Regions from separate parts of the Homo sapiens genome. Here region 2 is linked to region 1. Evidence: fine-mapped expression QTL. A gene starts in region 1. The other region holds a variant in brackets. All regions are shown on one strand. Distances are between the middles of the regions. Region 1 holds the start of CST6 (cystatin E/M). Region 2 overlaps LOC105369350 (a long non-coding RNA gene).

Region 1 (12,556 bases):
CAGGGACTGACCATGTTTCCCTCACTCCTTATCAGTAGAGACCGAAACTGGCAGCTTCCCTTCCACTCCCAGAGGGCAGCCACCCTAGCCATGTAGGCCTCAGGCAGGTGACTTTTGTCTCAATCCCCGAGTGATGTGGGAGAGGGTGTGGGTGGATCTTTTCCTGGGAGCCAGATGGACTGTGCTCCAGATGTCAGTTAAGTCAACAGCTGGGCTAGGCAGCACCTGGTGGAAAAGTCAGTGGGAGTCAGAGGTACCAGACAGGGTGGGCCGGATGTGGGTGAGAGTTCACCTGCCAGTCATCATCTGCTCTCCCGGCCTCTGTAAGGGTGGGCAGGGTGCTTGCCATCTTCCATGATCTCTTAGGGAGGAGAAGGAGCACAGGCATCACAGCTGGAAGGATGTGAGGGGAGTACACCTCAGTACATTTTAGTCCTGTTCTTTTTGTTTACTTTTTAACTTAATAGGGACAGGGCCCTGCTCTGTTGCCCATGCTGGCCTTAAGCGATCCTTAAGCCTCCCAAAGCGCTGTGACTATAGGTGTGAGCCACCATACCCGGCCAGCCCTATTATTTCTTGAACACTTAGTATGAACCAGGCTTGAAGCTAAAATCTTTGCAAACATTTTTTTCTTTCACAGTAATAAATATTTTCTCCTTTACAGGTGAGGAAATTTGAGGCTCAGAGAGGCTAATTTGCCCATGGACTTGCTCCTGGGAAGTAGCCAGACTGGAACTCAAACTAGCTTGGAAACCCAGGGACCCGGCCATGTGTTCCTTGGTCATGTGGCTTAGCCTCTCTGAGCCTCAGTTTCTCCACTTGGAAAATGAGGTGGTTGTAGGGAAAGGATATTTGCAGCAGTATAAACAACAAAGGACTATTTCCATAGCACATACAGAATTGCAATCAAGAAAAAAGCGGACTGGCTGGGCGCAATGGCTCACGTTTGTAATCCCAGCACTTTCAGAGGCCGAGGTGGGTGGATCACCTGAGGTCAGGAGTTCAAGACCAGCCTGGCCAACATGGTGAGACCCCATCTCTACCAAAAATACAAAAATTAGCCGGGTGTGGTGGTGCACGCCTATAATCCCAGCTACTCAGGAGACTAAGGCAGGAGAATCGAACTTGGGAGGCAGAGGTTGCAGTGAGCCGAGATCACGGCCATTGCACTCCAGCCAGGGTGACCAGAATGAAACTTTGTCTCAAAAAAAAAAAAAAACAACAGAAAAATGGGTAAAAGATCTAAGACGGCCACAGAAGAGGGTTCCCTCCCAGTAAATAAGCACAGGAAAGGTGCTCCATATTGCTAGTAATAAGACATCACATGCCATTAACACCCACCTGACTGGCAAACACTTTTAAGTTGGACAATACCAAGTATTGATGAGATAATGAAGCAACAGGAACTGATACCTAGCTGGTGGGAGTATAAATTGGTCTAAACAATTTGGGAAGACAGTTGGGTGTTATTTAGTAAAACTGACACGCCCTGTGACCAAGCAGTTCCACTCTCAGGACTGTGCCTTGAAGAAAGTCCCGAACACCTGCAGCAGGACCTAGATGAGTTTGCAGCTGCATTGTTGGGAGCAACGCTAGCGGCTGTCAATACTAGAGTAGATAAATAGGCACTCATGCCACCGGACACTGGACGGAGGTAAAAATGAACAAATGATAGTTGTGTACAACACGAATCTCAATAGCAAATGAAGACAAACAAATTCTTAGGAATTCCTACATAGATGGTAAAACTAGAAGGAAAACAAAGGAAATGATTATGGTAAATAGTAAAGGAAAAAGTCTACAGGGATTATCTTTGGGGGAGGGTGTGGAAGGGCTTAAGGGTAGGCTTGGCCTACCCTGACCTGTGTTTCTGACCTATGGGGTGGTGGTACAGGCATTGACCAAAAGTGTATGTTCTGCGCCCTTTTCAGTGTATTCGCTACATCTCAACAATAGAAAGATAACAGGAAAACCAAAAATAAAGACCTGAGGCTGGAACGATTGAGTGAAAGGTCAGAAACTAAATTGTTATTTGTAGGGATGAGAGTTCTGTGCAAGGCTGGGACTGGAAAGTGCGAGTGGCCCAGCTTGAAAGGGACACCAGGTGACTGCAGCAGGGCCCAGCTTGTGCTTCAAGCCGCTTCCTGGGAGGCTGCTGGTCTGAGTCCCGGCTGAGGTGGTCACGAGGGCTCTCTCTTGAGTTTCAGACTGTTTCTGATGTCTTCCCGGCTAAGTCCCCTCAGCCTTGACCCTCATGCTATGATGCTGTCGCAGGCCTTGTGTGCTTAGGTGGGGGCTTTGCAGGGCTCCGGCCTCACCACACCTCAGTCCTGATGCTGCCAGCTTGTTGCTGGTGCTCTGTGAGGTCATGGAGACTCCTCCTCCATGAAGCCCTTCCCTGGGCTCCTGCCCACGCTGGCCTCCTGGTTTGGCCTCGCCTGGTGGCACTGGGACCCTGCTGGAAGCCTGCGGCTCATGCTGTCTGCTTTATTTCCTTGTTGTCTGCCTTTCCCGGCTCACCCACAGGCTTTGCCATAGAAGGGACTGGAACCTGCCTTCTCACCTCTCCCTTGGGGCACAGGCAGTGCATATACCAGGTGGCAGGCCACAAACCCTTTATCAGGACTCCATATTGCATCCCACACAAGTTCTTGGCTCTGTCCTGGGACAGCAGTAGACAAAGGGCATCTAGAATGTACCTTGTGACAGTGTGGCCTCTCAGATCCAGCCCGACTCAGCCAGCAGGACAAAGGGACCACGGCTTGGAATGCTGGCGCAGAAAGCAGACCTGGCTGGTGAGGGGTATGAGTCAGGTTGTCTCAGTGTCAGCCCGTGGTGTCCAAGAGGACATGCCTGGCCACCCACTAGCCTGGGACATAGGTGGGCCCAGAAATCAGCAAATACTGACCCCATCCCCCCATCACACCCAGCCAGAGCTTGACCCCCTCAGCTGGTCTAGTCATGAGTGCTCAGAGCCAGCCTAGAACTTCGTGTGAACCCAGCCCATGCACTCTGGGGTGCTGAAGGGCTCCTGCTGCCCCCAGAAAGGAAGTAGGGGGAGGCTACCTGGACCACCACAAGCCCTGCCCCCGGCAGCCTGCTGAGCATGGAAGGCTCCCAGCAGGTGCTTGTGACTGTTGATCCCTTTCCAGGCTGGCCCCTCCCTGTGGGGACCAGGGCTCTTTCCTGTCACTCCCAACCTTGACTGGTGGCAGCCTTGAAGAGCCAGCCAGGCCCGATTCTGGGGCTTTGCTCCCCATGCGATCTGGAGCAAGTTGCTTCACTCCCCTGAGCTACAGCCTCCTCTGCCAGCTGATAACAGGGTTGTGAAGATTCAACCAGTGAATCAGCAGCGCTTAGGAGCGCTCCTCCCCAGAGGGGAGCTTTAATCCCTGTTGGATTACAGGTTTCCTTGCTGAAAGATCTCCTTTCCAGGATATGGGGCTACAGAGCCCTGGGGGGAGGGCAATATCCTCTGCCCAACTGAAGGTTCAAGGAAGAGGGTTCTGGGGGAAGCATCGAAGCCTTGGAGAGCCTGATCCCAGAGGGAAGGAGATGTCAAGAACCTGCCCTGGTCATCTCCACCCATCAGGCCAGGGGCAAGAGAGGGGTGCTGTGGACAACCTGGGGTGGGATGTCTGGGCCACTGCAAAACTGGAGGCTCTGCCCTGTGGCCAGTACATTTGACCGACCTCAAGCTCACGCTTGGCGCAAACCTCCTGGAAGCCAGAGTGGTCCAGACGGGATGGAGTCAGGCCCTGGGAAAGTCTGCTCAGGGACACCCCATCTGCAAGAAACAACCCCTACACCATGCACAGCAGACCTCAAACCCCTGTGGAGCAGCCCAGGACTCATGCACCGGGACCCACCACTAACCTTTCCCCTTTGATCTCCCATTTCCTCCTTGTAGGAAGAGATAATAGTCATTGTCTGTGCAGAGCTGCTATGGGAATGAAAGAACATATATTGAATCCCTGGCGCAAGGCCTGGCACACAGCAAGAGTTCTTACCATTGTTAATCCTCCCCACCTTTTCTTACCAAGATACCACTTCTAGCTGTGTGACCTTAGACAAGTGTCCCGACCTCTCTGATTAACTTCTTCATCTGCAAAGTGAGGATAATGTGTACTCCCTCAGGGTGCTTGTGAGAATCAGTGGGTGAAAAGTGCTCAGAAATTGCTAGGTTGTACTGCAAAAAAAGTCCTTTGCATCAGCACAAAGCAGAGGCAGGTGGAGTGGGTGCCCTTGGTGAGTGGCAGACAGGCCTTGGCTAGTTTTTGAGAGAGCTGTTGGAGGTACCTGTGGCCATGGCTAAGCTCCAAGTGATGACACAGCAGGCCCAGGGGAGCTGCCTCTCCCACCTCGCCCCTGTGGCACGATCCTGGTACTCTTCCTCTACCCCTCCCAGGCTTTCAGCTCAGAGTCCTGGCCAGGCGTCATCCTCCTGATCAACTCAAGCTCGGCCAGCACTTCCACAAACTGGAGTCTGTCCCTTTAAGCCAGACACCTGAGGCCGCCAGGAACTTGTGACGGTTCCTTGGAATCCCAGGAAGATGGCAGAGTTGGTTTTCCACAGCTGGGCTGAGGAAGTGAGGTGGGTAGCAGGCTGGCAGCTGCCCTGGGCAGTGAGTGACCGCTGTGGTCTAGGTCTCTGTGTGGGAAATCACTTCCTTTTGTGGTCCTGGGATTCTAAGGCCCAGAATCAGGAAGGGAGGGTGACACGCTGGATGCCTACATACAATATCCATCACAGTGACAGTTGCCAGCTGCTCTTTACGTACTGTGACCTAGCACCTCTTCCAAGCCCCAGTGAAGCCCCTGGAGGCTCTAAGCACTGCAAGATCTTAGTGCCCCAGGGACAATAAGCCCCGCCCCCCAGCAACATGGAATTACAAATACAAACTACACTGAACTCTAAAATGCAGACAAATAATTCCAAGGCCTGCCTGTAATCCCAGCATTTTGGGAAGCTGAGGTGGGAGGATCTCGTGATCTCTTGAGGCCAGGCATTCGAGACCCACCTGGCACTACTGTGAGACCCCATCTCTACAAAAAAATATAAGAATTAGCCAGGTGTGGAAAAAAATTAACCAGGCATGGGGGCATGCGCCTGTGGTCCCAGCTACTTGGGAGGCTGAGATGGGAGGATAGCTTGAAGCCAGGAAGTCGAGTTATAGTGAGCTATGATAGCGCCACTGCACTCTAGCCTGGCTGACAGAGCGCTGTCACAAAAAAAAAAAAAAATTCAACAAAATCCAGACTTTTCTTGCGTTGACTACTTCAACACTGCTTTTCATCTGTTCCTTTTTTTTTTTGAGACAGAGTCTTGCTCTGTCACCCAGGTGGAGTGCAGTGGCACCATCACTGCTCACTGCAGCCTCGACCTCCCAGACTCTAGTAATCCTCCCACCTCAGCCTCCCGAGTAGCTGGGACCACAGGCGTGCACCACCATGCACAGCTAATTTATTTTAGATTTTTTGGTAGAGACGGCTCACTATGTTGCCCAGGCTGGTCTCAAACTCCTGGCCTCAAGTGATCCTCCTGCTTCCGACTCCCAAAGTCCTGGGATTACAGGTGTGAGCTACCGTGTGATTAATAGATCACCACCTATTAATAATAATCAATTAATTATTGGAGTCTTTTTTTTTTGAGATAGAGTCTTGCTCTGTCACCCAGGCTGGAGTGCAGTGGGTGCCGTCTCAGCTCACTGCAACCTCTGCCTCCCAGGTTCAAGTGATTCACCCACCTCAGCCTCCCAAGTAGCTGAGACTACAGGTGTGCACCACCACACCCAGCTAATTTTTGTATTTTTAGTAGAGATGGGGTGTTGGGAGCCGAAAGGGCCAAAGGGATTGTGACCAACTCAGCATTCCACTGAAGGCTATATGATCAAACAGCCACCTGTTTATCACGAATGCAGGATGTGGGCAAACTCCCACTGCCCTGCCACCAAAAGGTTTGCTGAGGGCCTTACTCCTTGGCACTGGGGTCCCTGAAGTTATCTACTGAGAAAATTAGCACCTATTGTTCAAAGGATGCAGTCTCACAAGCCTGCTGTGAACCAAAGTGCTGACCGACAATTACCTGACATACCCGACAATCACCCTCCCCCTTTCTCGCTATCTCTTTTGCCTACTACATACAGAGGGCTGTGTAAAGCTCAGGGCCCTTGTCCACTAGAGGCAAGGTGCCCCCTGACCCCTTCTTCCAAATATACTCTTTTGTCTCTTGTCTTTTATTCCCACGTTTGCCCGGCTTTGTTCAGTCCCCCTAGGTCCGTGCGGGCTATGATGGGGTTTCACCATGTTGGCCAGGCTGGTCTCGAACTCCTGGCCTCAAGTGATCTGCCCACCTCGGCCTCCCAAAGTGCTGGGATTACAGGCGTGAGCCACCACACCTGGCAATTATTGGAGTCTTTAAAAACACAGTCATGGGCCTTGTTTGCTGGTACCTCCAGCACATGCTCACTGTATCCACGGGACAGCCAGATTCGAAACATCAATATCAGAACAAACTTAGGAGATAAGGTGTCTTTCAGACGAGGGCACGGAGGCTCTGTGTGGGAGGTTGAGGGACTTGCCCAAAGCCATGCCGTCAGTAAGATGGCAGAGCTGACATGACTGACACCCCCTCCTTCTGGGCAGTTTGTGTCCTGTGGGCTCAGTCTGGTTTAAGACCACAGATTTGACTTAGACTGTCAGCACACACAAGCCAGTGTCACCATTTATTTCCTGCCGGTGTCTTTGGGCAAATCCATTTTCCCTTCTCTGTAAAGTGGAAACTATTTTTTTTCTTTTTTCTTTTTTTTTTTTGTGAGACAGAGTCTCTCTCTGTCACCCAGGCTAGAGCGCAGTGGTGCCATTTTGGCTCACTGCAACCTCTGCCTCCCAGGTTCAAGCAATTCCCCTGCCTCAGCCTTCTGAGTAGCTGGGAATTCAGGTGTGTGCCACCACGCCTGGCTAATTTTTGTATTTTTGGTAGAGACGGGGTTTCACCATGTTGGCCAGGCTGGTCTTGAACTCCTGACCTCAAGTGATCTGCCTGCCTCGGCCTCCCAAAGTGCTGGGATTACAAGTGTGAGCCCTCATGCCCGGCCTTCTTTTTTTTTTTTTTTTTTTTTTTTTTTTTTGAGTCAGCGTCTAGCTCTGTCGCCCAGGCTGGAATGCTGCAGTGGTGAGATCACGATTCACTGACTTGAACTCCTTGGCTCAAGTGGTCCTCCCACCTTGGCCTCTCAAAGTGCTGGAATTACAAGCATGCCTAGGTGCCTGGCCAGGTAGAAACATTAGTCACTCGCGCTCCAGGAAGGTTGTCAGGCAGCGCTGAGCAGTAATGTGTCCTACTCACCTGCTGTTTATCCAGCACCAGACCTCTTCTAAGAACTTTACCTGTTTCAGCTCACTGAATCCTCACAACACCCATTGTACAGAAGAGGAAACTGAGGCAGCGAGTGGTTAAGTGACTTCTCCGAGGTTACACAGCTAGGAAATGGTGGCAACAGTAAGAGCCCACGAAGAGCTGCGGTTGGTAGTTCATTCTGGACAGCCCTCCCGTGAACCGTCCCTGTACTGGCACTTGTTGCTGGGGACTGTCGCTGTCCTCTCCCTCCCCGGGCCAGGTGTGTCCTGGAGGGCAGGGAAGCGTCTTGGCACGCGGGTGCGCGCCGCCCCCTCGGCCTCCTGGGCTCCCTGAACCTCGCAGGACCCCGGCAACTTCGAGCCCCGCCCCAGCTCCAGGCCGCGGGGGCGCATCGCGGGCGTCGGGCGGGGCGGCCCAGCGGGTAAAAGCTGCGCGGCCGCAAGCTCGGCACTCACGGCTCTGAGGGCTCCGACGGCACTGACGGCCATGGCGCGTTCGAACCTCCCGCTGGCGCTGGGCCTGGCCCTGGTCGCATTCTGCCTCCTGGCGCTGCCACGCGACGCCCGGGCCCGGCCGCAGGAGCGCATGGTCGGAGAACTCCGGGACCTGTCGCCCGACGACCCGCAGGTGCAGAAGGCGGCGCAGGCGGCCGTGGCCAGCTACAACATGGGCAGCAACAGCATCTACTACTTCCGAGACACGCACATCATCAAGGCGCAGAGCCAGGTGCGGCGGGCGGGGTGCTGGGAGGGGACACCCGGCCCAGATGGGGGAGGCCACAGGCGCTGCCCCAGCGTGCATGAAGGGGGCCTAAAAGCGCAATCGGGATATTTTCATGCAATATTTTAAAAATCGAATTAATGCTAAAACTCCACGATGGACAACCATCTAAATTTCAAGGAAAGACATAATTAAACCCTGTATTGCACTACCTGCCTTCCTGGCTTGCCTGGTCCTAGTCTCTGCCCTGATGGGGTGGATCGGGGAGGAGGGAAGGCAGGTGGGGACAGTGGGCAGCTCCCTAGATGGGGCATGTCTGATGTCTGCCAAGGCTGCTGGTGGGGCTCAGCCTCCAGGCCTCTCCACCCTCCATCCCCACCAGAACTCCCCCCCCCACCCCCCCCCACCCCCCCCCACCCCGTCTGAATCATCCCCTCTCCCTCTCTCCCCACCTGAGTGCCTGGGGGCAACAGGAGAATATATCAAGAGGTGAGAAGTGAGGATCAAGGGTCAAGACCCCTGACCTGCCCCTACCCTATGCCCCCAGCTGGTGGCCGGCATCAAGTACTTCCTGACGATGGAGATGGGGAGCACAGACTGCCGCAAGACCAGGGTCACTGGAGACCACGTCGACCTCACCACTTGCCCCCTGGCAGCAGGGGCGCAGCAGGAGGTAACAGCTGGGCTCCTCCAGCCCCAGCCCTCCCCAGAGCCTCAGGCACTCAGGTTGTCCATCCTGAACTGGTTTGGCTGGACACGTAGATGTCTAGATGTCTGGCTGAACCTGTCGTCCTTCTGGATGAGTCAGCCTCTGGGCCAAGATGGGGTGCAGAAAGGAAGCTGGGGCTTCCCTCGGGAATGGGGAAGTTGGCTACCAAGATCTGGAGTCTAGCCCCAGACATGCGGCTTGACATCCGTTGGGTCAGTGATTGTCCCTCTCTTGGCCTGGAGCAGCCTGGCAGGCAGAGGGCTGGCTGTTGGGAGGAGACAGGTCGAGGCTGGGCTCACCCCTCCTTCTCCCCCATATTCCCTCCACAGAAGCTGCGCTGTGACTTTGAGGTCCTTGTGGTTCCCTGGCAGAACTCCTCTCAGCTCCTAAAGCACAACTGTGTGCAGATGTGATAAGTCCCCGAGGGCGAAGGCCATTGGGTTTGGGGCCATGGTGGAGGGCACTTCAGGTCCGTGGGCCGTATCTGTCACAATAAATGGCCAGTGCTGCTTCTTGCATTGGTTTCTTCCAAGTGCTTCGCTTCTGCCCCCATCCCCCACTCCCACTTCTGGCAGCTCCCAGCTCCCCAGCCCAAGCTGAGAGGTCACCCTGCCACCTGCAGCAGAGCTGCTGCTGTCCCAGCCCAGACAGTGCTGAAGGTGCAGGGCTGAGCCTCCAAATGTGGAGCCCCCAAACACCCCAGCATCACAGGCATAGAGGAACAAACCTTAGAGCCCCCACACACAGCCAGAGACTCCCAATATTCTCAGAGGTCAGGGGTGGCGGCAGACTCACAGAGGAGGGGCGATGGCCTGAGATAAGAACAGGGCCGGCTGCCTGGGAGCACTCTGAGGAGGAGTCTGTGCTGTGCTCCCACTCAGCCCCAGGAGGAGCTCATGGGTGGCATGGGGGGCTTCAATCAGGCAGTGTCCTCACCCAGGACACTGAGCTCCCAGCCTATAAAGATTCCTCCACCTGCATGTGGCCCAACGATGGCAGAGTCCCTGCAGGCCAAGAGACCATGAAGGCTAGGACAGTGCCTCTCAGTCCACACTGTGGGCTCCACGCCACAAGGACGCCTCTCTTGCCTTGCCCTGGGCAAGACGCCTGAAAGGGGCTAGACTAGGAGCCGCAGAGGGACAGAGATTGTCTAGCGCCCACAGGAGGGGTGAGGGGACAGATTCAATGTAATGTCATTTAAAGAAAACAGCATTGCAGCCGGCCTCACACCTGTAATCCCAGCACTTTGGTAGGCTGAGGTGGATGGATCACCTGAGGTCAGGGGTTCAAGACCAGCCTGGTGGCCGGGCGCGGTGACTCACGCCTGTAATCCCAGCACTTTGGGAGGCCGAGGCGGGCAGATCACGAGGTCAGCAGATCGAGACCATCCTGGGTAACACGGTGAAACCCCGTCTCTACTAAAAATACAAAAAATTAGCTGGGTGTAGTGGCGGGCGCCTGTAGTCCCAGCTACTCGGGAGGCTGAGGCAGGAGAATGGCGTGAACCCGGGAGGTGGAGCTTGCAGTGAGCCGAGATGGCGCCACTGCACTCCAGCCTGGGCGCCAGAGCCAGACTCCATCTCAAAAAAAAAAAAAAAAAAAAAAAAACCAGCCTGGCCAACATGGTGAAATCCCATCTCAACCAAGAATACAAAAATTATCTGGGTGTGGTGGCAGGTGCCTGTAATCTCAGCTACTCAGGAAGCTGAGGTAGGAGAATCGCTTGAATCCAGGAGGCAGAGGTTGCAGTGAGCCGAGATTGCGCCACTGCACTCCAGTCTGGGAGACAGAGCGAGACTCCATCTCAAAAAAATTAAAAATAAAAAAAGAAGAAGAAAACAGCATTGCAACATTTGCACATCTGAATTTGTGGCTGCAATTCATACCCCCCCATACATATACACACGCACACACCCAAAGCACAACACACCAGACATACACACACAGACACCCAGAGCACACACTCAGATGCTGGCAGATATCACATGCATACCCAGAGAAACACAGCCTAGCAACTCATGAGCACAGAAGCAACACACCCTAGAGAAACAACCTGGAGATGTACACACAAAACTCAAACACAACCCAAGGACCCACATGCCACACCCAGAGGTTCCTCAGATGCACAAGCACACACCCACACTTGGGATATGGGCCTTGGGGGTGCTAGGTATAGGCACCATCAGGCCCAGGCAGGCAGCACTGCAGTGGCTGCGGAGAGCATCCCACGGTCCTTCCTTTCTGACAAGGCCTCACACCCTGCTTGTGCCTGCCTGGTCCCCTGCCCAAGGCTGGGGCCTAATAAGCAGCAGCCCCAGCTCCCAGGCCCTGCTGTCGGCCTTTGGAGGCCAGATTGGGGTAGAGACGGGGAAACGGGAAGTAGACCCTGGGTCCCACCTGGGAGTGAGAAGCTGAGGGGTGGCATTTGACAGGAGCTGGGGACCCAGGAGACAACATCCAGCCCTGCTTCTGCTCAAGCTTGTCAGATGTGGCAGCTCAGACAGCCCAGGGTGTGTGCGGGGCCTGCTGCTTGGAAGGGCTCCCATGTGCCACCAAGCAGGGACTCCCAGCATGGGGCAGGCACAGGGTGGGTGGCAGGAAATGCCTGTTGAATGAATGTGTGAGGTGGTGGAGAGAAGCAAGGCCCAGAGACGCCTGCCCGGTGACCTCTCCGCCCCTGGAATCTGTGCCCAAATCCCAGATGGCATTTCCTCCGCATAGTCTATTCCTGGGCCCTGGGCCCTGGGCCAGCCAGTGCCTTCCGCCAGACCAGGGAGGGGAGGTGCTTCTTCTGTCCTGGGACCCTGGAAGCTCCAGCACTGACTGGTCTGGTCCAGAGATGGGAGGGTTGGCAAAAAACTATTGCCCTTCAGCTCCCGCTCCTGACTCCCTCCGGCCTGAACTGCACCCTGGATTCGCCTCTACTAGAGGTGAGATGGCTGTTGTAGATAATGGAAAACCCTCCACTTAAGGAGAGACCCCTGGGGCCAGGGCGAGGCTTGAACTTGACTCAGTGCTAGGTCTCCAGCACCCAGCATAGGCCAGTGTCCCACTGTCACCCCCAGCCATGGGGACAGGGGCTCTGGACATCCAGCCTAGGCTCAGGCTATCAGTCGGGGAGGTCATCTAAGTCCTAGAGCAGGCAATGGGGCGCAGCCTTCAGCCTCATTCCCTGCTTCCCTCTCCCAGCAGCAGGGTCCTCCACACATCCCTGCCCGCCCCTTGCCCTGAGGCCAGAAGGACTTGAGCAGCCCCGACTCCACCTCCCCTCAGTGGGGCTCTAGAGTCTGACCCCAGAAAGGGCAGGATATGGCAATGACCTCCGACCTCTGGGTTCATGATATCCCCATCCGGTTGGTGCTCTTCTACTGGAGCTGAGGGTCCTGGTAGGATTGAGTTCCTGGGCTCTGAGTCCCCATTCCTAGAGCCTATTGGGCCCCCAGGCCCTGGTAACCCTGGGGTGTTCAGGCCTATTCTTTTTCTCCTGACTCTTGGGCCAGATGGGCCTTCCTCCCCAAAGCAGGGTTACTGCCTCCTCGGCCCTCCCGGCACCGCCGGCACCTGAGCTCAGCCCACGTTCTGCTTCATCCCTCCAGCTGCTGCTAATGCCCTGCTGGGCTGAGCTAGCATGCGGGCGCTGGTAGGGCTGGAGGGGATCCAAGAGCAGCTCCTTTCACATGCAACACGGGCACACACTCGTTCGTGTGTGTGCACCAATTCCCTTCCCTGCGCCTTGGCCTAGTCAGTGAGGACATGGAGCCTCCTGG
Region 2 (14,633 bases), 77 kb before region 1:
TATGTATATGTCTCTATATACACAAATATATGTATTTTTATATGTATATGTGTGTGCCTATATATGTGTGTATATATATGTGTGTGTGTGTATGTGTGTGTATATATATGTACACACATATATATATGTATATATATATTTTTTGAGACATGGGATCTCACTTTGTTGCCCAGGCTGGTCTCAAACTCCTGACCTCAAGTGATCCACCCTCCTCAGCTTCCCAAAGTGCTGGGATTACAGGCATGAGCCACCCCACCTGGCCTCTACCTCTGTTTTCTTTTCTTTTTTTGAGGCGGAGTTTCTCTCTTGTCACCCAGGCTGGAGAGCAGTGGTGCTATCTCGGCTCACCACAACCTCCGCCTCTCAGGTTCAAGCGATTCTCCTGCTTCAGCCTCCCGAGTAGCTGGGATTACAGGCATACGCCACCACACCCGGCTAATTTTGTATTGTTTTTAGTAGAGACAGGGTTTCTTCATGTTGGTCAGGCTGGTTTCAAACTCCTGACTTCAGGTGATCCGCCCGCCTCGGCCCCCCAAAGTGCTGGGATTACAGGCGTGAGCCACCTTGCCCAGCCTATCTCTATTTTCTAATCTGTAAAACGGGGATCATAATAGCACCTCCTTCAGGGACATGTGATGGTTTCATGAGATATGATATGTAAGTCGCTCAGCACAGTGCCTGGCATACAGTAAGCACCCAATAAATGGTGCCTGCTGTTATGGACATTTATGGAAATAAGATCCTGGAAAGCAGATTGGAAGGGCATGTACTAAACAGACAAGGGGATGTCGTGGCTCAAAGCAGCAGGAGTAGGACTGGGATGCAGGGAAGGGGAGAGTCCATTGAAAGGGGAAGCTTTAGGCTGGGTGTGGTGGCTCAAGCCTGTAATCCCAGCACTTTGGGCAGCCAAGGTGGGCGGATCACCTGAGGTTGGGAGTTCCAGACCAGCCTGACCATCATGGAGACACCCCATCTCTACTAAAAATACAAAATTAGCCGGACATGGTGGCGCATGCCTGTAATCCCAGCTACTCGGGAGGCTGAGGCAGGAGAATTGCTTGAACCCGGGAGGCGGAGGTTGCGGTGAGCCAAGATCGTGCCATGGGACTCCAACCTGGGCAACAGGAACGAAACTCCATCTCAAACAAACAAACAAACAAACAAAAAAGAAAAGAAAAGGGAAGCTTTTCAGGGCCCTATGGCTGCATGGAGTGCCCCAAACTAAGGCGCATGTCTGCTTGATTCTATGCACCCTGTGTTGAAAAAACAGAAAAGACATTGTCAGAATGGGCCCAACCTCAGGGGACAGCATCACATAGGGCAGGGTAAAGCATGGCCCTGCAGGATTCATGGGATCATACATTGTCTTCATTCAGTCACTCAAGAAATATTTGCTGAGTACCTACTCTGTGCCGGGCCCTGCTCTGGGCTTGGGGAAGGTGAACTCAGAGAAAACACACAGAGCCTCTGCTCCCTAGCTCAGTCCAGTTGGGGGAAGGGGCAGCAGACTGATGGTAAACAAATAGGTACATTCACGCCTCTCCAGGGGTAGTGGGGAGAGGGGACCCCGAGGAGGCCAGCGTGTTGAAGCCGCAGCAAGCAAGTGGGTGGGCAGGGCCCTGGTTCCTCCAGGGGGGTGCGGCTGCCCTGTTTTTAGCCACAGATGCTCTTCCATTCCAGCCTGGTGCCCAGAGTCGGTTTCACTTTCCTCTTACCCGTTTTCTTAGAGTTTGGTTTCTGTTTTGTGGGTTCCCTGCCCCCCTTCCGCCTTTGTCTGGAGTTGCAGATTAGCCTAGTGGTTCTCAACCCTGGCTACATCTTAGAACCCTGGGGAGCTTTTTTTTCTTTTTTTCTTTTTTTTTTTTTTGAGACAGGGTCTCATTCTGTCTCCCAGACTGGAGTGAAGTGGCGCGATCTTGGCTCACTGCAACCTCTGCCTCCCAGGTTCAAGTGATTCTCCTTTCTGCCTCAGTCTCCCCAGTAGCTGGGGAGGCTACTCGCCACCACGCCTGGCAATTTTTTGTATTTTTAGTAGAGACAAGTTCTCACCATGTTGACCAGGCTGGTCTCAAACTCCTGACCTTAAGTGATCCACCCGCCTCGGCCTCCCAAAGTGCTGGGATTACAGGCCTGAGCCACTGTGCCCGGCCGACCCTGGGGAACTTTAAAATACCCATATCTGGGCCTGTCTTCAGTTAGATCAGAAGCCCTGAAGATGAGCCTTCCCAAACTCTGGTCTCGTCTTCTTAACTCGGTGAGAACAACGGTTGCCCTCCCAGTGCAGTGGTAGGAAAATCACCTATGCAATGTCAGGGCTCCTCCCCTTTATCTTCCGTTTTTCAGGGATCACAGCCCTGAGCTGCCCTTTGTCTAATATCTGAAAACACTTGTTTCCTGTGCTTTGTCCAGTTTCTTAGCTGTTTGTAGAAAAAGGGCAATTTCAGTTCACCTTACTTCCTCAAGGCCAGAACCTAGAGTCCCTCCTCATCCTTTGAACTCCCCAAGTCCTTCACCTGTCCCCTCTCCAAGTTTCTTCCCATGCTCTGGCTGGGATAACTGTGCTTGCAGGTTTCACCTCCACTTCTGGAAAGCGCCCCTCTTGGGGACACAGGGCCTGTCGGATTCACGTCTGTGTCTCCAGGATGTCTCACAGGGCCTGGCACGTGGTAGGTACGTGGTGGGCATGTTTTTGTGCATGGGTCTGCCCTGCCCTTCTTCCTTCAGGCCACCCCAAATCATATCCGTATCCCTAGAGAACTGACGCCCACCCCACTCCAACCAGGTGGCACCTCCAGGACCGCTGGTCAAGATACCCTCCCCACAGCCATTGGTCAGGGGTGGCCGTGAGACTCAAGACAGCACATGTGGCCGGGTGCAATCGCTCACGCCTGTAATCCCAGGACTTTGGAACGCTGAGGCAGGCAGATCACCTGGGATCAGGAGTTCAAGACAAGCCTGGCCAACATGGCAAAACCCCATCTCTACTAAAAATACAAAAATTAGCTGGATGTGGTGGTGGGTGCCTGTAATCCCAGCTACTCAGGAGGCTGAGGCTGCAGAATTGCGAGAACCTGGGCAGTGGAGGTTGTAGTGAGCCGAGATCGCACCACTGCACTCCAGCCTGGGCGATAGAGCAAGACTCCGTTTTTTAAATAAATTACCCAGTTCCAGGTTTTCTGTTATAAGCAACAGAGAATGGGTGAAGACATTTATTTTTATCTTTAATAATGTATTTAGGCCAATTGTATGCTAGAGAGACCTGACTACTACAAGACATCATTGTATGCTTGCCGAATAAATGAAATACCATTGATTAATTTGCAAACCACATTCCCAGTGCACCTGAGGTGGCTTCCAACAAGAACAAGGAAGGTAAAATTTAAAAAACAGAAATGGAGATTCAAGAATGTGGATGGGTGCAGTGGTATACACCCGTGCTACCAGTGGTGCACTCCCAGCTACTCTGGAGGCCCGAGGAGGGAGGATCACTTGAGACCAGGAATGTGAGTCCAGACTGGGCAACATAGCAAGATCTTATCTCTAAAAACAAAAAATTTTAGGCCGGGTGTGGTGGCTCATGCCTGTAATCCCAGCACTTTGGGAGGCTGAGGAGGGCGGATCACGAGGTCAAGAGATCGAGACCATCCTGACCAACATGGTGAAACCCTGTCTCTACTAAAAATACAAAAATTAGCTGGGTGTGGTGGTGCACGCCTGCAGCCCCAGGTACTCGGGAGGCTGAGGCAGCAGAATCTCTTGAACTCGGGAGATGGAGGTTGTAGTGAGCCAAGATCGTGCCACTGCACTCCAGCCTGGTGACAAAGCGAAACTCTATCTGAAAAAAAAAAAAAAAAAAAAAATTTAGGCCACATGGGATGGCTCACACCATAATCCCAGCACTTTGGGAGGCCAAGGCAGGAGGATCACTTGAGGCCAGGAGTTTGATACCAGCCTAGGCAACATAGTGAGACCCTGTCTCTAAAAAAATTATTAAAAAATTTTTTAAATAAAATAATAAAATATAATTAAAAGAGAAAATAAAGATCAGAAACAATAGCATACATATATAAATATGCAACCCATAAAGGCCTGTAAAAGTGCTTTATTAATTCAATATCAAATTTAGTTCTGAGCTTTCTGGCAGCCAAAGCAAAAAACTTTTTTTTTTTTTTCCGGAGAAAACTTCTTCAGTGGAAAGAAATTTTTTCCTAGACTTTAGCTGCAAAAGAACAGTTTCAGATGGGGCCTGCGGTGTGATGTGGTGAAGGCCAATCTCAGCCGCATTCGCACAGCCAAAGCCTGTAATAAGCCTCCCACAATGAGTCCTTGGAGAATGGGTCCAGGCGATTCAGTTGTTCTCATTTGGGCTCGCCTTGACCTCTCAGTGGCTCTTGTCATAGTTGGTCGCTTGCCTCCTCTTTGAAACACTTTCTTCACTTGGATGGGGGCCCTCACTCTCTTGGCAATCTTTTTTTTTTTTTGAGACGGAGTCTCGCACTCTCACCCAGGCTGGAGTGCAGTGGCGCCATCTCGGCTCACTACAAGCTCCGCCTCCCGGGTCCACACCATTCTCCTGCCTCAGCCTCCCGAGTAGCTGGGACTACAGGCGCCCGCCACCACGCATGGCTAATTTTTTTTATTTTTACTAGAGACGGGGTTTCACCGTATGAGCCAGGATGGTCTCGATCTTCTGACCTTGTGATCCGCCGCCTCATCCTCCTAAAGTGCTGGGATTACAGGCGTGAGCCACCGCGCCCGGCCTCTCTTGGCAATCTTCTTCCCCACCGTGGGCTGTGGTCTTGTCTCCATGGCCACATCTCCCTGACCTCTCTTGACCTCTGAATGGTGGTGGGCCCAGGCTCAGACCTCTCCCCTGCCCTCCCTTCCCCTCCCTTCCCCTCCCCTCCCACTTCCTGGATGACAGGCCACTGTTTCCACCCCAGGCCCTCCAGTCTAATTTCTACTCACAGCCAGAGGGAGTGCAGCCATTACATCTTATGCTGCCATTTCCTCATCGTCCTGTGATCACCTAAAGTTACTAAACAAATCTCTATTAAAGTGCCCAGTTTTGTGTAGTGGCCAAATCCCAGAACTTGATTTAGAATGAAGTATTCTTGGGCTGGGCGTGGTAGTACGCACCTGTAGTCCCAGCTGGTCGTGAGGCTGAGGCTGCAGGGATCGCTTGAGTTTGAGGCTGCAGGGACCCAAGATAGCACCACTGCACTCAAGCCTGGGCAACAGAGCGAGAGCTTGTCTCAAAACAAACAAACAAACAAACAAACAAACAAAAAAAACGAACACAGCTTTTTCCACTTCTGGCCATTGCAGCCCCCACTGATAAGGAGTCAGGGAAGTCGGGTCTGCGCCTCTCCCTGGCCCCATTCCCAGGCTTGAGAAGACGCTGCCTTTGGAGAACAGGGAGGGAGGGCAGTGGGTGCAGAGAGTGCATCCTGGATTGACACTGGTGTAAGATGGCATCTCACTCCTTGGGTGGCAGCTGTCTAAAGCTGGCTCCTGCCCTCAGGGGTTTTATGGGCTCCCTTATGTACTACCCCCTTGACTGAAACTCCTGGCAAAGGGGCAGCCCCTCTCTGTTGACTGGCTCTGGTTTTCTTTCAAGTGGCATGCACTACCCCACTCTGTTGCATACCCTGTGCCAGAGAAAACAAGCCCGTGGGGCCAGACCCCTTTTTCCATTCCTGCGGTCCAGTGCCCACTGCAGGTCACCTCCTTTCTGGAGGCCTTTCCTACCAATGACCCACGGGGGTGCCATGACTGCAGGAAGCCCACCTCAAGCGCTCTGGGGGGCTTCCTTGAAGCACTTCTCACCAGATTTGAGGTTAGAAGGCAGCTCCCCAGCTCCACCCCCTGCAGACTCACTGCCATAGCAGCTCTTTCCAAATCAAATCACCGCAAACTGCCCCTTTCAAATCCACCCTCGATCCCTTTATACTCTTGCGGTGGATGAGGGGCTTCGACAGTGGCAACATGGGTTTCTGCTTTCTTTAAAATTTTGCAGTTTGGCCAGGAGCAAGCACTTCACTTTGGCATTTCATATCCATTCCATTCTAGAGCCTCAGTCAAATATTCTTGCACGCTGTTCATCCTTAGGACAAACCCAGAATCCTTTCCCTGGCTCCCAGGCCCCACGTGATCTGACTCTTGAGCACCCCCCCATGGAGGTTTATTTATTTATTTTTTTGAGGCGGAGTCTCACTCTGTCGCCCAGGCTGGAATACAATGACGCGATCTCAGCTTGCTGCAACCTCTGCCTCCCGGGTTCAAGTGATTCTTGAGCCTCAGCCTTCCGAGTAGCTGGGACTACAGGTGTGTGCCACCATACTTGGCTAATTGTTTTGTATTTTTTTAGTAGAGACGGGGTTTCACCATGTTGGCCAGGCTGATCTCAAACCTCTGACCTCAAGCGATCTGCCCAACTCGGCATCCTAAAGTGCTAGGATTACAGGTGTGAGCCACCGTGCCCAGCCCCCCATGGAGGTTTAAAATATCAAAATACCAACCTGGGCACAGTGGCACACACCTGTAGTCCCAGCTACTCAATAGGATCGTTCTAGCCCAGGAATTTGAGTCCAGTCTGAGCAACATAGCAAAACCCCATTTCCAAATAACATAAAATATCAAAATACCAAAAAACATTACAAATAATTGTATGTTGGTAAATATAGAAACTTAAGCAAAGTAAATACCTTTCTGGAAGAATGTGAAATGTCAAAATTGGCACAAAAATATCAAAACTTCAGTAGACCCATAACCAGGAAAGAAAATTGAGTAGCTCATGCCTGTGACCTCAGCACTTTGTTTTATTTTGTTTTTGAGATGGAGTCTCACTCTTATTGCCCAGGCTGGAGTGTGGTGGCGCAATCTCGGCTCACTGCAACCCCTGCCTCCCATTTTCAAGCGATTCTCCTGCCTCAGCCTTCCGAGTAGCTGGGATTAAAGGCGCCAGCCACCACGCCCAGCTAATTTTTTTGTATTTTTAGTAGAGACAGAGTTTCACCACGTTGGCCAGGCTGGTCTCGAACTCCTGACCTCAGGTGATCCACCTGGCTAAGCCTTCCGAAGTGCTGGGATTACAGGTGTGAGCCACTGCACCCGTCCTAACCTCAGCACTTTGGGAGGCTAAGGCAGAAGGATCATTTGAGGCGAGGAATATAAAATCAGCCTGGGAAACATAGCGAGACCCTGTCTCTTGGGAAAACAACAACAACAACAACACTACAATAGGCCGGGCACAGTGGCTCACGCCTATAATCTTAGTACTTTGGGAGGCTAAGGCAGGCAGATCACCTGAGGTTGGGAGTTCGAGACCAGCCTGGCCAACATGGTGAAACTCTGTCTCTACTAAAAATACAAAAATTACCCGGATGTGGTGGCACATGCCTGTAATCCCAGCTACTTGGGAGGCTGAGGCACGAGAATCACTTGAACCTGGGAGGTGGAGGTTGCAGTGAGCCGAGATCACTCTACTGCACTCCAGCCTGGGCGACAGAGCAAGACTCCATCTCAAAAAAAAAAAAAAAAAAAAAACTAAAAGAAAAAGAAACTTGTAATCTGAGACTCCAATGTGAAAAAACCCAATAGAAATGTTTTTATAGGGCAGTTCTACCAGCCTTTGGAGGAACAGATGGTCCTTATCTCACACCAGTTGTTACAGAAGCCAGAAAGAGAGAAGGCTGCCCAATTTCTTGTATGACCCCCGCAAGCCAGATAAAGACAGTATCAGAAAAGTCTGTACACAGAGCATTTCGTTATGGACACAGATGTTAAGCGTAAACTAATAGAATAGAATATAGGAAAATACCCCACCTAGGGATAGGAAAAGAAAGACTCTCAAAATACAAAGCTCTATTCAAAAACATTTATGAGTCTAACTCCATCAAAATTAAAGATTTTTTTTTTACCAGACTTAAAAAAAGATTAAGGATTTCTGGCCAGGCACGGTGGCTCACACCTGTAATCCCAGCACTTTGGGAGGCCAAGGTGGGTGAATCACTTGAGGTCAGGAGTTCGAGGGCAGCCTGGCCAACATGGTGAAACCCCATCTTTACAAAAATTAGCCAGTCGTGGTGGCACATACCTGTAATCCCAGCTACTCGGGAGGCTGAGGCAGGATAATTGTTTTGAACGTGGGTGGTGGAGGTTGCAGTGAGCTGAGATTGCACAACTGCACTCCAGTCTGGGTAACAGAGCGAGAGAGCGAGAATCCGTCTCGAAAAAAAAAAAAAAGTACCAGACCTCATTTTATGACCCCAGGGTTAGTCAAAATTCATAAGGTGAATAATGTCAATGTTTGGTGAGAATGTGGGCAGACAGAAATCCTTGGTCTTCTGTAGGCACATAAACTGACAGCCCTTCTCTCAAGCAATCTGAAATTAGGTGTATGTTTATGCCAAGACCTTACACTCTCAGCCTTGGATAAGTAGGCCAGAGAGATTCTCATTCAGGTGTACAAAGAGGCATGTGCAGCGGTGTTGACCACGGTGTTCTTTGTGAGAACAGGACTTGGGAGCCAGTCTGGCATCCATTGTCAGAAGGATGAATTAAGTAAAGCATACAAAGGGAAACTACGGAACACTATGCAACAGTCAGGATCTACAAGGCTTTTAAAACACAGTGCGGGCCAGGCACAGTGGCTCACGCCTGTATTCCCAGCACTTTGGGAGGCCGAGACGGGCGGATCACCTGAGGTCAGCAGTTCAAGACCAGCCTGGCCAACATGGTGAAACCTGGTCTCTACTAAAAAATAAATACAAAAATTAGCTGGGTATGGTAACGCAAGTCTGTAATCCCAGCTACTTGGGAGGCTGAGGCAGGAGAATTGCTTGAGCCCGGGAGGTGGAGGTTGCAGCGAGCTAAGATTGCACCACTGCACTCCAGCCTGGGCAACAAAGCGAGACTCTGTCTCAAAAAAAAAAAAAATCAAAAAACAAAAAACAAAAACAAAAACCACAGTGTTAGCAGCGGAGGGTGGCATGTGCCCATAATCCCAGATACTTGGGATGCTGAGGCGGGAGGATCTCTTGACCCCAGGAGTTTGAGGCCAGCCTGGGCAATATGAGACCTTGTCTCTAAAAACAAAACGATGGGGCATGGTGATTCATGCCTATAATTCCAGCTTTTTTTTTTTTTTTTTGAGAAGGAGTCTCGCTCTGTTGCCCAGGCTGGAGTGCAGTGGCATGATCTTGGCTCACTACAAGCTCTGCCTCCCGGGTTCACGCCATTCTCTGGCCTGAGCCTCCCGAGTAGCTGGGACTACAGGCGCCCGCCACCATGCCCGGCTAATTTTTTGTATTTTTAGTAGAGACGGGGTTTCACCATGTTAGCTAAGATGGTCTCAATCTCCTGACCTCGTGATCCTCCCTCTTCGGCCTCCCAAAGTGCTGGGATTACAGGCGTGAGCCACCGCGCCCAGCCTAATTCCAGCTTTTATTTATTTATTTATTTATTTCTGAGATGGAGTCTTGTTCTGTCACCCAGGCTGGAGTGCAGTAGTGTGATCTCAGCTAGCTGCAACCTCTGCCTGGGTTCAAGTGATTCTCCTGCTTCAGCCTCCTGAGTTAGCTGGGACTACAGGTGTGTGCCACCATGCCCGACTAATTTTTGTATTTTTAGTAGAGACGGGATTTCACAGTGATGGCCAGGCTTGTCTTGAACTCCTGACCTCAAGTAATCCACCTGCCTCGGCCTCCCAAAGTGCTGGGATTACATGCATAAGCCACCTTGCCCAGCCTGATTCTAGCATTTTGAGTAGGCTTAAGCGGGAGGAGTCCTTGAGGCCAGGAGTTCAAGATTAGCCTAGGCAGCATAGTGAGACCTCTGTCTCTCCAAAACTAATTTTTTTTTAAAGTAGCCAGGCATGGTGGCACATGCCTGTAGTCCAAGCTACTCAGGACGTTGTGGTTGTGGTAGAGGATCACCTGAGCCCAGGAGTTCGAGGCTGCAGTGAGCTATAATCACACCACTGCACTCCAGCCTGGGTGACAGAGTGAGGCCTTATCTCTAGAAAATAAAATAAATTTTAAAAACCCTAAAGCACAGTTTTGAAGGAAACGAGTAAGGAACAAAAATGAGATCAATACTGCTTATGCAAATTAAATACATACAATACCATTTATTTATTTTTATACTTAGTTTTATTTTTTATGTTTTTCTTGAGACAGGGTTTCACTCTGTCACCCAGACTGGAGTGCAGTGGTGTGATCATAGCTCATTGCAGCCTCAACCTCCTGGGCGCAGGTGATCCTCCCGCCTCAGCCTCCCGAGTAGCTGGAACTACAGGGACACGCCACCATGCCCAGCTAATTTCTTTGTATATTTTTGTGGAGCTGGGGTTTCACCATGTTTCTCAGGCTGGTCTCCAACTCCTGAACTCCAGCAATCCACCTACCTTGACCTCCCAAAGTGCTGGGATTACAGGCGTGAGCCACTGCACCCGGACCACAATACCACTTACATAAACAAAAAATACATACACACAAAAATGATAAAAGCTTCACAATGATCCGTTAACATCTTTCTTTCTTTCTTTTTCTTTCTTTCTTTCTTTCTCTCTCTCTTTCTTTCTTTCTCTCTTTATTTATTTATTTTTTTCAGAGTCTTGCTCTGTTGCCCAGGCTACAATGCAGTGGCATGTTCTCAGCTCACTGCAACATCTGCCTCCCATGTTCAAGCAATTCTCCTGCCTCA[A/G]CCTCCTGAGTAGCTGGGATTACAGGCACGTGCCACCACGCCTGGCTAATTTTTGTATTTTTAGTAGAGATGGGGTTTCACCATGTTGGCCAGGCTGGTTTCGAACACCTGACCTCAAGTGATCCACCTGCCTCGGCCACCCAAAGTGCTGGGATTACAGGCATGAGTCACCACGCCCAGCCTATTCACATTTAAATAGGATGGAGCGGGGATCAAAGATGAAGAAGAAAATACAAAGGCAAAACAAGAGTCGCATTGCATCCATTGATGCTTTTTGTATGCTGTGAAATAAGGAATACAATAAACTCAGCTATCTGCTCCCCAGGACTAATGCAGAAGAGAAATGTGCAAAGGACATGGACAGGAATTCACAGAGGTAGCACAAATGGTCCATGGAGATAGGAAAATACTTGAACCTCACAAATAATGAAGGTGTGGAGACAAAAATGACCCCATCTTAGACGTGAATCCGCCATGCTGACTTCTGAATAGCTGCAGTCCCGTGAATACCTCCTGATTCCTACTCTATTTACTGCCCTTAGCATAAGACTATGTCCACCTTGATGTTATCACACCAATTATAGGCTATAACGTATGCAGATTCTTGCCTGTTCTGGAGGGCTGCCTTTAATTGTCTTGCACAGAACACTCATACCCTTTCCCTATGGTACATAAGCCTTGGCTCTAGGATGACAGGCACGGAGATCTGTTTGTCTCGTGGCTGCCCAAGACCAAGCTTGTCTGTAAGGTCACCCAAATAAATCACCCTGTACCAGCAAACTGGATTTGTCTGCCTTGTTCTTTGGTTTCTCTGCTCCTTCAGCATTCGGGAGCTGCCTTGCATATCTGGCCCTTTCATGAAAGAGAAGAGAATACAAGTTATTGCAACAATGCAATAATAGCTTTTCATCTATCAGATTAGCAAAGTGAAAATTATAATTGCTGGTGAGGGTATAAATACTGTTGATGGAAATCTATAATGATTGAGCCTTTAGGGGGAATAATTAGGCACCATCAAGATCTAAATGGCTTAGAGCTAGCTAGTTTGCTTATAGAACATTACCTTGCAGAAATCTCAAGACACATTTCCAGGGATGTCCGCAGCTGCAGTGTCTGGAGTGAGGACGCAAGCGGAAGCAGTCCCGGTGTTTGACAAAAGGACACAGGTGATGTACATTAGGTGGGTCAGACAGCCAAACAGTGATGATGGTAAAGACTGGGTGGCTCTGTATGTCCTGACATGGAAAGAATATAACATTCTAGTAGGCAAAACCAGGATGATCTCATTTTTGTTGAAAAATATGTATATGTAGGTTTGTATACACACACACACACACACACACACACACACACACACACACGTCTATCTCTAAAATCACAAGATATTCAAATGGTACACTGGCTCAGGTCTTGGTTTTGCATCGGAGGCCAAGGACAAAGCAATAGCCCCAGGGCCCTGCATTGCTAATCAGGTGCCAGGCCCCCTTGCAGTGAGGACAGGACACTCCTGACCTCAAGTGATCCACCCACCTCAGCCTCCCAAAGTGCTGGGATTACAGGCGTGAGCCACCGCGCCCGGCCCAGACTAGACATTTCAATTTCAATTTCTGAGGCTGTTCTTAGTGATCAGAGGACTTTTCACTACCTGAGGTGACTTGAGAAGTCATAGTGCCTGCTCACGTCTTATCCAGGCCTGGGAACGGCTTGGCCCAAGGGGGAGTGGGTGGGTGGAAAAGGATGCAGCTGTCTCTGTCCGAATGCTGCACCCCGCCTTGCTCAGGGTGTCAGTTCCACATTTGTTTGTGCTCACAGGGGAAAAACACGGGCCAAATACACACCCAAAAGTTAACAGCAGTTCTACTGCACAGATTTAATTTTTTTTTAGACAGAGTTTTACTCTTGTTGCCCAGGCTGGAGTGCAGTGGTACGATCTCGGCTCACTGCAACCTCTGCCTCCCTGATTCAAGCGATTCTCCTGCCTGAGCCTCCCAAAGTAGCTGGGATTACAGGCGCCTGCCACCACACCCTGGTAATTTTTTTGTATTTTTAGCTGAGACGGGGTTTCATCATGTTGACCAGGCTGGTCTCGAACTCCTGACCTCAGGTGATCCACCTGCCTCAGCCTCCCAAAGTGCTGGGATTACAGCTGTGAGCCACTGCACCTGGTCATATTTAAATTTTTGACAGTGTGCATATATTACTTCTATTATCTGAAGAACCAATAAAGATGTTTTCTATCTGTACATGTATTTATTATTTTATTGTATTGTATTTCATTTTATTTTATTTTATTTTATTTTATTTTTTGAGACAGTCTCATTCTGTTGCCCAGGCTGGAGTGCAGTGGTGTGATCTTGGCTCACTGCAGCCTCCACCCCCTGGGTTCAAGCAATTCTCCCATCTCAGCCTCCCGAGTAGCTGGGACTACAGGCATGCACCTCCATGCCCGGCTAATTTTTTTGTATTTTAAGTAGAGACAGGGTTTATCCATGTTGCTTGGGCTGGTCTCAAACTCCGGTGCTCAAGCCATCCTCCTGCCTCAGACTCTCAAAGTGCTGGGATTACAGGCGTGAGCCACTACTCCAGGCTCCCATTGCAGGTTTTAAGCAGAAGTCTTTAAAAAATGGCCCAAGCTGGCCGGGCTCGGTGGCTTACGCCTGTAATCCCAGCACTTTGGGAGGCAGAGGCGGGTGGATCATGAGGTCAGGAGATCGAGACCATCCTGGCTAACACAGTGAAACCCCGCCTCTACTAAAAATACAAAAAATTAGCCGGGCATGGTGGCGGGCGCCTGTAGTCCCAGCTACTCGGGAGGCTGAGGCAGGAGAATGGCGTCAACCCAGGAGGCGGAGCTTGCAGTGAGCCGAGATTGCGCCACTGCACTCCAGCCTGGACGACAGAACAAGAGACTCCATCTCAAAAAAAAAAAAAATGGCCCAGGCTGCTGGGTTGGGAATTGACCATGAAGAAGCAGAAAGTCTATGTAGAAGACAACGGATGTTGAGAATGCTCCAAATAGCTGGTGGTAAGCGTTCAGATTCTGAATGCACTTTGAAATCAGGAACAACTGTTGGATAGGACATAGCATTTCAGAGAGAGAAAAGCCTAGGCTTTTGGTTCGAGAAACTAGAAGGATAGCATAGTCACTAGGCCAAGATGGAGAGGGCTGTGGGGAGGGTCAGGGAGTCAGTTTCAGAGTTGTTGAATGTGAGATGCCTGTTAGACACCTAGATGGAGCAGTGGACTGGGTCATTCGAGTTTGGGAGGCAGGACTCACCTTCTGAGCTTGAGGGAGATGTCTGGACTACAGATAAAAGTGGGGTTCATTGTCTGATAGATTTTATTTAAAATGAGCCTGTCATGCCTGTAATCCCAGCACTTTGGGAGTCTGAAGCAGGAAGATCTCTTGAGCCCAGGGGTTCAAGACCAGCCTGTGCAACATGGCTAGACGTTGTCTCTACAAAAAATACAAAAAATCAGCTGGGCATGGTGGTGCACACCTTTAGTTCCAGCTGCTCAGGAGGCTGAGGCGGGAGTGTCACTTGAGCCCAGGAGGTCGAGGCTGCAGTGAGCCATGATCACGCAACTGCACTCCAGTCAGTCTAGGTGACAGAGTGAGACCTTGTCTCAAAAAAAAAAAAAAACAACCAAAAACCCAAAAACACAAAACCATGGTCCTGGTGAGTCCAGTAAAAGAGGAGCTGTGGCCGGGCGTGGTGGCTCATGCCTGTAATCTCAGCACTTTGGAGGCCGAGGCGGGCGGATCACGAGGTTAGGAGTTCGAGACCAGCCTGGCCAACATAGCGAAACCCCGTCTCTACTAAAAATACAAAAATTAGCCAGGCATGGTGGTTTGCGCCTGTAGTCCCAGCTACTTCGGAGGTTGAGGCAGGAGAATCACTTGAACCTGGGAGGCGGAAGTTGTG

Evidence for each region. PIP is the estimated chance that this variant, and not a neighbour inherited with it, causes the effect.
Region 2: its variant is fine-mapped to the expression of CST6 in lung (TOPMed, PIP 0.94).

Annotation. Positions count from the first base shown.
Region 1 is chr11:66,004,199-66,016,754 of GRCh38, forward strand. It overlaps CST6 (cystatin E/M), which reads left to right and starts at 7,810. Exons shown (of 3, transcript NM_001323.4): 1 at 7,810-8,086; 2 at 8,628-8,753; 3 at 9,119-9,307. The coding sequence starts at 7,847. The coding sequence ends at 9,202. It overlaps CATSPER1 (cation channel sperm associated 1), which reads right to left. Exons shown (of 12, transcript NM_053054.4): 12 at 12,554-12,556. RefSeq lists a silencer at 3,160-3,454 and enhancers at 4,112-4,906, 9,292-9,867.
Region 2 is chr11:65,926,538-65,941,170 of GRCh38, forward strand. LOC105369350 (a long non-coding RNA gene) reads right to left here. Exons shown (of 3, transcript XR_950212.3): 2 at 11,771-11,942; 3 at 11,255-11,559. Among named protein-coding and RNA genes, the nearest start is that of TSGA10IP, 12 kb to the right of the region's middle. RefSeq lists a cis regulatory region at 1,335-1,900 and enhancers at 1,437-1,866, 1,581-1,875, 10,700-11,224, 14,481-14,633. The variant A/G (reference allele first, on the strand shown) is at 10,708.